Linked DNA regions of Homo sapiens: region 2 is linked to region 1. The links come from fine-mapping of genetic effects on gene expression. A gene starts in region 1. The other region holds a variant in brackets. All regions are shown on one strand. Distances are between the middles of the regions. Region 1 holds the start of SAP25 (Sin3A associated protein 25). Region 2 overlaps CYP3A43 (cytochrome P450 family 3 subfamily A member 43).

Region 1 (2,907 bases):
CTGCATCTGGGGGCGCCTGCTGTCCATTCCAGTGCCCTGTGGCAGGGGCCACGGGCCTGAGACCCCTGCCCGAGGCTGCTTCATACAGCGGCCAGAATGAGGGGTGACACAGCGTCCGGCCTGAGAACGAGGCTCCTGAGCTACAGTTGGCCCCCTAGGGTGAGGAGGACAGAGCACTGGAGCCTCAGGCCACCGCACAGCTCCCTGAGCACCCCAGCCAGTCCCACAGGTTTGCCCCCAACTCACCCACACCGGCCGAGGTCCTGCTTTGGCTTCATACTTGGGGTCCCAGGGCGCTAGTGGAGTCATCCTCGAGGGGGCCACCTCCCAGGCCACCTGGGGGGAACGGGGATCTGGGGGGACGCTTGGGGATTATAACAGGCTCACAGTCAGTGAGAGGCTCTTAGGGGTAGTAGAGGCAGCAGGGCCTGTCCTACCTGGGGCTCCGGGGGGCTGCTCAGTGGCCGGGCCTGGCAGGTGGTGGGGCAGCAGCAGCTGCTCTCTCCAGATCCAGGAAGGGCTACGGGATGGGGGCTGTGGGCTGGAGGGGCAGGGACTGAGGCTGCAGCCACACCGCCCCCACGCACCCTCCCCTGGAGCCCAAGGGTGCCTGGTGCAAGGGAGACCGAGGGACCCAATCTCCAGCAGGGACAATGGAGAAGCCTCCGTAGAGCGCGTGGTGAAGGCATGGAGGCCCCCAGTCGCTGTCCCCCCACGGCTCCGTCCGAGCCCCTCACCTGTCCCATGGGGGTGTCCCCAGCTCCCTGGGGGCGTCCGCTCCGGCGCTCCAGGGCTCGCCCTGGTCCTTGCCCGCCGGAAGGCCTGGTCCCTCGGGCGCCTCCTCCGGGCCCGCGCCCCACCGCGGCGGCGACCAGGGCAACATTCCGCGTTCCCGAGCGCAGGACGGTACCGCCGTGTCCCCGCCGCCCGGCCCGGCCCTCTCAGCCTCCCTCCGCGGCGCGGCGCGAACGTGCCCTCCTGGCGAACCCACCCCAGAGGCCTCGCGGCGACGCTGGCGCCCTGTGCGTCTCCCGGCCACGTGGCGCGTGCCCCCGCCGGGCTCCCGCGGGCGCCCCCTGGCGACTGGGCGGTGAATTCCGGAAACAGAGGCCCCCCCAACAACCCCGCGACGCACGTGCTCTCAGACACAGTTACACCTGAGGGCCACCCAGAGGGCTTCTGGCTTCTGTTTATTGCGGCTGACACGACACCTGCGACACCCGCGGTCCTTCCACCCAGACCCTCGACCCCAGAGGCAGCCAGGCCGGCAGGCCAAGGGTGCCCAGGCCCAGGCCACCCTCACCACGTGCTTCTCTGAGAGCGCGGAGCCCAGGCGCGTCTTCTGCTCCCGGGGTCCCGGGCGGGGTGGGCCCTGTGCCCCCACCTTCACCCCTAAGGCCGGTCCAGCAGGGCGTGGACGACAGCAGCGATGTAGGGGAGGCCCCTTCCCGGGGCCCCCTCCTCTTCCAGGATGTGGTGGGGCTGGCACAGTGACTCCTGGGGGAAGGGGCCGGGTTAGCTTCCCCACGGTGCCCCCTGCGGCTTCCGGCCTGTGGCAGGGGGTCGGGGGCAGACCCGAGCATCACCGTGCGCTCGGGGCTCGGCGACAAATGAGACGCAAGAAAGCTGTCAGCGATAACAGAAGGGAGGTGACACGGGGGGTTGGCGGACGCTCCGGGAGCATGAGAGGCCGGCATCTCAGGAGGGAGATGCTGGTGGGCACAGAGCCATGGCCACAGCCACCAACACGCGGAGCAGACGCGCGCGCGCGCGCACACACACACACACAGGCAGGGCGGCCACGGTCTGTACAGTTTATACACAGAGATAGGGACCCGGCCTGGGCCCCGAACCCCTACAAATATAGATCCTCTCTACAAAATAGAGATAATTTAGCCCCCCCATAGCAGCTGTTGGGGGGGGAAGGGGAGGGCACAGGAGGAAGGGGGAGACTCCAGCTCCTGCCACCCCTCACGGGGTACAGAGGGCAGGGGCAGGGCCGGCGGGGACATGAAGGCACCGTCAGCACTGAGAGGTGGGGACTCGTGGGGCTACTGGAGGGAGGCCAGAGGCTGGGGGCCCAGGGTCTGGGGGCACCAGAGTGGGGCCTCTGAGGTCAGTGTCTGTGAAGGGGGTGCACTAGTGTCTTTGGTTGGGGCTGAAGGCACCGCAGGTGGGGTCGGGTGGAGCAGGGACCTTATAAATAGAGAGGAAGGGAAAGGGGTGAGGGAGGGCCGATTTTGGGGCCTAGGAACCCAGGAGCCGAGTGTAGGTGACATAGAGCAGCAGCATGAGGACCACGTAGAAGACGACGAAGCCGCCCAGACCAGAGGGGGGCCAGAGGGGCGGTAGGGCCTTGCCCCCCACCCGCTTCACGGCCTCCAGCGCGGTCCGCAGCCCCCGGGCAGTGCCCTGGAGGAGATCCGAGGGCGAGCACAGGTCAGCCTGGGGGAGAGGAGAGCAGGTGGACAAGGACAAGGGACAGACGTCAGCAGCAGCAGCAGGACAGTCCCTCCCACCCCTGCCCTCACGTGCTGGGGCCAGAACCACGCCCACATGCTGACGTGCTGGGCAGGGGGAGTGCAGTGCAGGAGGAGTGCAGGGCAGGGCATGTGCAGGACAGGTGACATGCAGGACAAGATGGGGCCTGCAGGGCAGGGGATGTGTAGGACAGGTGACATGCAGGGCAGGGGGCATGCAGGGCAGGGGGCATGCTGGGCAGGGCAGGGGCAGCCTGTGCCTTCATCTGAGAGCAGACATCCGCTGCAAATGGAAGCCCACCATCCATGCCACATGCTCGGCTGAGTCCGGCATGCCACCACTCTTTAGAAAGCAGCCCCCATACCTCAGGCACCCCCATTTTTCGACAGGCTTCTAGAAAACTCTCCACATTCTTCCGAGCCTTGA
Region 2 (2,907 bases), 710 kb before region 1:
AAAGTTACCCAGCTGTGCAGCTGGTGGGGATGGTATGATGAGGAGTGAATGGCCCACAATCGTGTAGACCCTGGAAAAAAAACTGGATTAAAGTGACTTTGCCTTATTCTGGCTCTGTAGGATACACATCAGAGTGAAGCCACCCGCAGTGTGACTCTGAATTGCTTTTCTATTTTTGCTCTTAGGGATTTGGGAGCTTCACTGGAATTTTGCTTCATCTAAACTGTGATGCTCTACACTAACCACTTTTCCTAAAATATATTTCCTCTCCTTTCAGCTCTGTCTGATCTGGAGCTTGTGGCCCAGTCAATTATCATCATTTTTGCTGCCTATGACACAACTAGCACCACTCTCCCCTTCATTATGTATGAACTGGCCACTCACCCTGATGTCCAGCAGAAACTGCAGGAGGAGATTGACGCAGTTTTACCCAATAAGGTAAGGGGATGATCCCCTGGAGAAGGAGGGAGAAGGTGAAGCCTCAGCAAGAATGCCTCCTCACCACTTGCCAGGACAATTTTTGCAAAAAGCGTAAGCATCAGTTCTTTCATTTACACTATGCAGAAAGGCTGTAAAGAGTAAAAACAAAGGGAGAATCGTAGGTAGTGGATGCTTCTTGCGTAAGTGTAAGATCTTTGTGAAACAGTGCTGGTCCTGCTGCATCCGTTGTCTGTTAGCAACATAACACCAAGTAAAAAATATCCAGAAATCTCAATGACAACTAAAAACAATCATTTATTGCTCACAAGTCTGGATAGTGAGCTCTGCTGATATTGGCTGGACTCGCTGTGGTCTGGCAGTGGTCTGATGGAACCTGGCCCTGGGTGCGCTGGGCAGGCTGACTCAGCTCTGCCTCACACCTCTCTCTGCTCCAGTCAAGTAGCTAGTGGTGAAGAAGCCAAGCTAGGACCCAGGGTGCCTGACGCCTGGGCCAAACATTTAACCTCTACAATATTACCTTCCAAATATAACACCAAATGCTAGCCACGTATTACCCACACTGTTTCCAGAATTCTGCCCAAATTGGAATTCTTTATGGTGTAACGAGATCTGGCCTTGGGGCTGGCCCTGGTTTGGCAGTGAGGTGAACACAAAGGAATGTTCATCTAAGTTCATAGTCCAGGCCTGAAGGAACAAGTGGGAAATTGTTCGAGAAAGACAGGATGGGGCTGCCCGGAGGGTTCCTATCCTGTTTACAACTCTCAGTAGCACTGAAATTGTGTGCCCTGTCCAGTTATAAAGTTCTTTTGTCATATTTGGGTTACAAAAGAACTAGTTTATCCCCAAACTATTTATAGGGTTTTTATATAACATAGTGTTACTCTCCACATTTTTTTTTTGCATGGAGTCTTGCTTCGTCGCCCAGGCTGG[A/T]CTGCAGTGGGGTGATCTCGGCTCACTGCTACCTCCGCCTCCAGGGTTCAAGTGATTCTCGTGCCTCAGCCACCTGAGTAGCTGGGATTACAGGCGTGCGCTACTATGCCCGGCTAATTTTTATAGTTTTAGTAGACACAGGGTTTCACCATGTTGGCCAGGCTGGTCTCAAACTCCTGACCTCAAGTGATCCACCCACCTTGGCCTCCCAAAGTGTTGGGATTATAGGCATGAGCCACCATGCCTGGCCTAAACAGGACTTTTCCATTTTAAATGCTTGTATGAAATAGAGGATTTGCTTTTTACATTTTCTTTTTCCTTGGTACAGATGCATAGCCTCTCTTTGGAAAGGTGACACTGGCTTTGGCATATTTTAGGTGATTCAAATGGCCATCGTCTATTAGTCATGTTTGTTCTCCCAAGAAAGAAAAAACACGAAATGGTAATGTCAAGGATTTCAGTCTCTGTGTAAGTGATTGTGCCAAATTCATAACTCCTCCACACATCTCAATGGGCCATCGAGCACATCACTGGGTATGGAGAATTATTAAAATAATTTATAAATGCAACAATCTTTTACCAGAATGAATTATTCTCTGGAGCTCCTAACACTTCAATAGTACTGCATGGACTAAGTTGAAAGTTAATTCCCAATCTCAATTTATCCAAATCTGTTTCTTTCTTCCCAGGCACCTGTCACCTACGATGCCCTGGTACAGATGGAGTACCTTGACATGGTGGTGAATGAAACGCTCAGATTATTCCCAGTTGTTAGTAGAGTTACGAGAGTCTGCAAGAAAGATATTGAAATCAATGGAGTGTTCATTCCCAAAGGGTTAGCAGTGATGGTTCCAATCTATGCTCTTCACCATGACCCAAAGTACTGGACAGAGCCTGAGAAGTTCTGCCCTGAAAGGTACAAGGCCCCTGGGAAAGGAGCCTTCCCTCAACCAGCCTGATTCAAGTATATTCTGCCTCTCTCGATGCACATGGCAATCATTTGAATATGTGCCTTTTCATTTTGGAAGTTTTTTATTACAAAATGATAACTGTTAAACTTTACAAACCATAGATTAAGAAACACCTTATAACAACCCTCATTAACTATGTAATGCCTGTCTTGTAGGCATTTTTCTATGCATAGACATTTTTAAAAACTAGTATACTATCACATTTTATTTGAGTTTGAACTGCTGCTTACTTCATTTCAAAGTAAACCATTACCTATCTACTATCTTACGTTACTACATATTTCTATATGCATAAGCTATAATTCATTTCACCATAATGTTATTTTGAGTATATAAGCTTGTTATTCATTTCAGTTTTTCTTTGCTGTGCCCTTTAGCTCTCTGAATTTAGCACCACGTTTAGGACATGTTTCCACATTCCTTTTTCTTTCAACATTGCTTGCTGTTTTCCGTAATGTAACTGTGAAAGTGCAGGCTGAGATCCTGAGACATCCTCATCCCTGATGGTTTAAGCCACTTCATTGAGGACAGAGGGAAGCAGAGGTTCTCCTGGTCCTGTTTGTGT

The links. PIP is the estimated chance that this variant, and not a neighbour inherited with it, causes the effect.
Region 2: its variant is the best candidate, but not a certain one, in a credible set for the expression of SAP25 in whole blood (TOPMed, PIP 0.84).

What each region holds. Positions count from the first base shown.
Region 1 is chr7:100,572,860-100,575,766 of GRCh38, forward strand. SAP25 (Sin3A associated protein 25) reads right to left here and starts at 1,041. Exons shown (of 6, transcript NM_001348680.2): 1 at 738-1,041; 2 at 438-541; 3 at 247-353; 4 at 1-154. The coding sequence starts at 883. LRCH4 (leucine rich repeats and calponin homology domain containing 4) reads right to left here. Exons shown (of 18, transcript NM_002319.5): 17 at 2,846-2,907; 18 at 1,152-2,445. The coding sequence ends at 2,248. RefSeq lists enhancers at 1,905-2,459, 2,460-2,907.
Region 2 is chr7:99,859,553-99,862,459 of GRCh38, forward strand. CYP3A43 (cytochrome P450 family 3 subfamily A member 43) reads left to right here. Exons shown (of 13, transcript NM_057095.3): 10 at 278-438; 11 at 2,061-2,287. Among named protein-coding and RNA genes, the nearest start is that of OR2AE1, 16 kb to the right of the region's middle. RefSeq lists a silencer at 720-920. The variant A/T (reference allele first, on the strand shown) is at 1,372.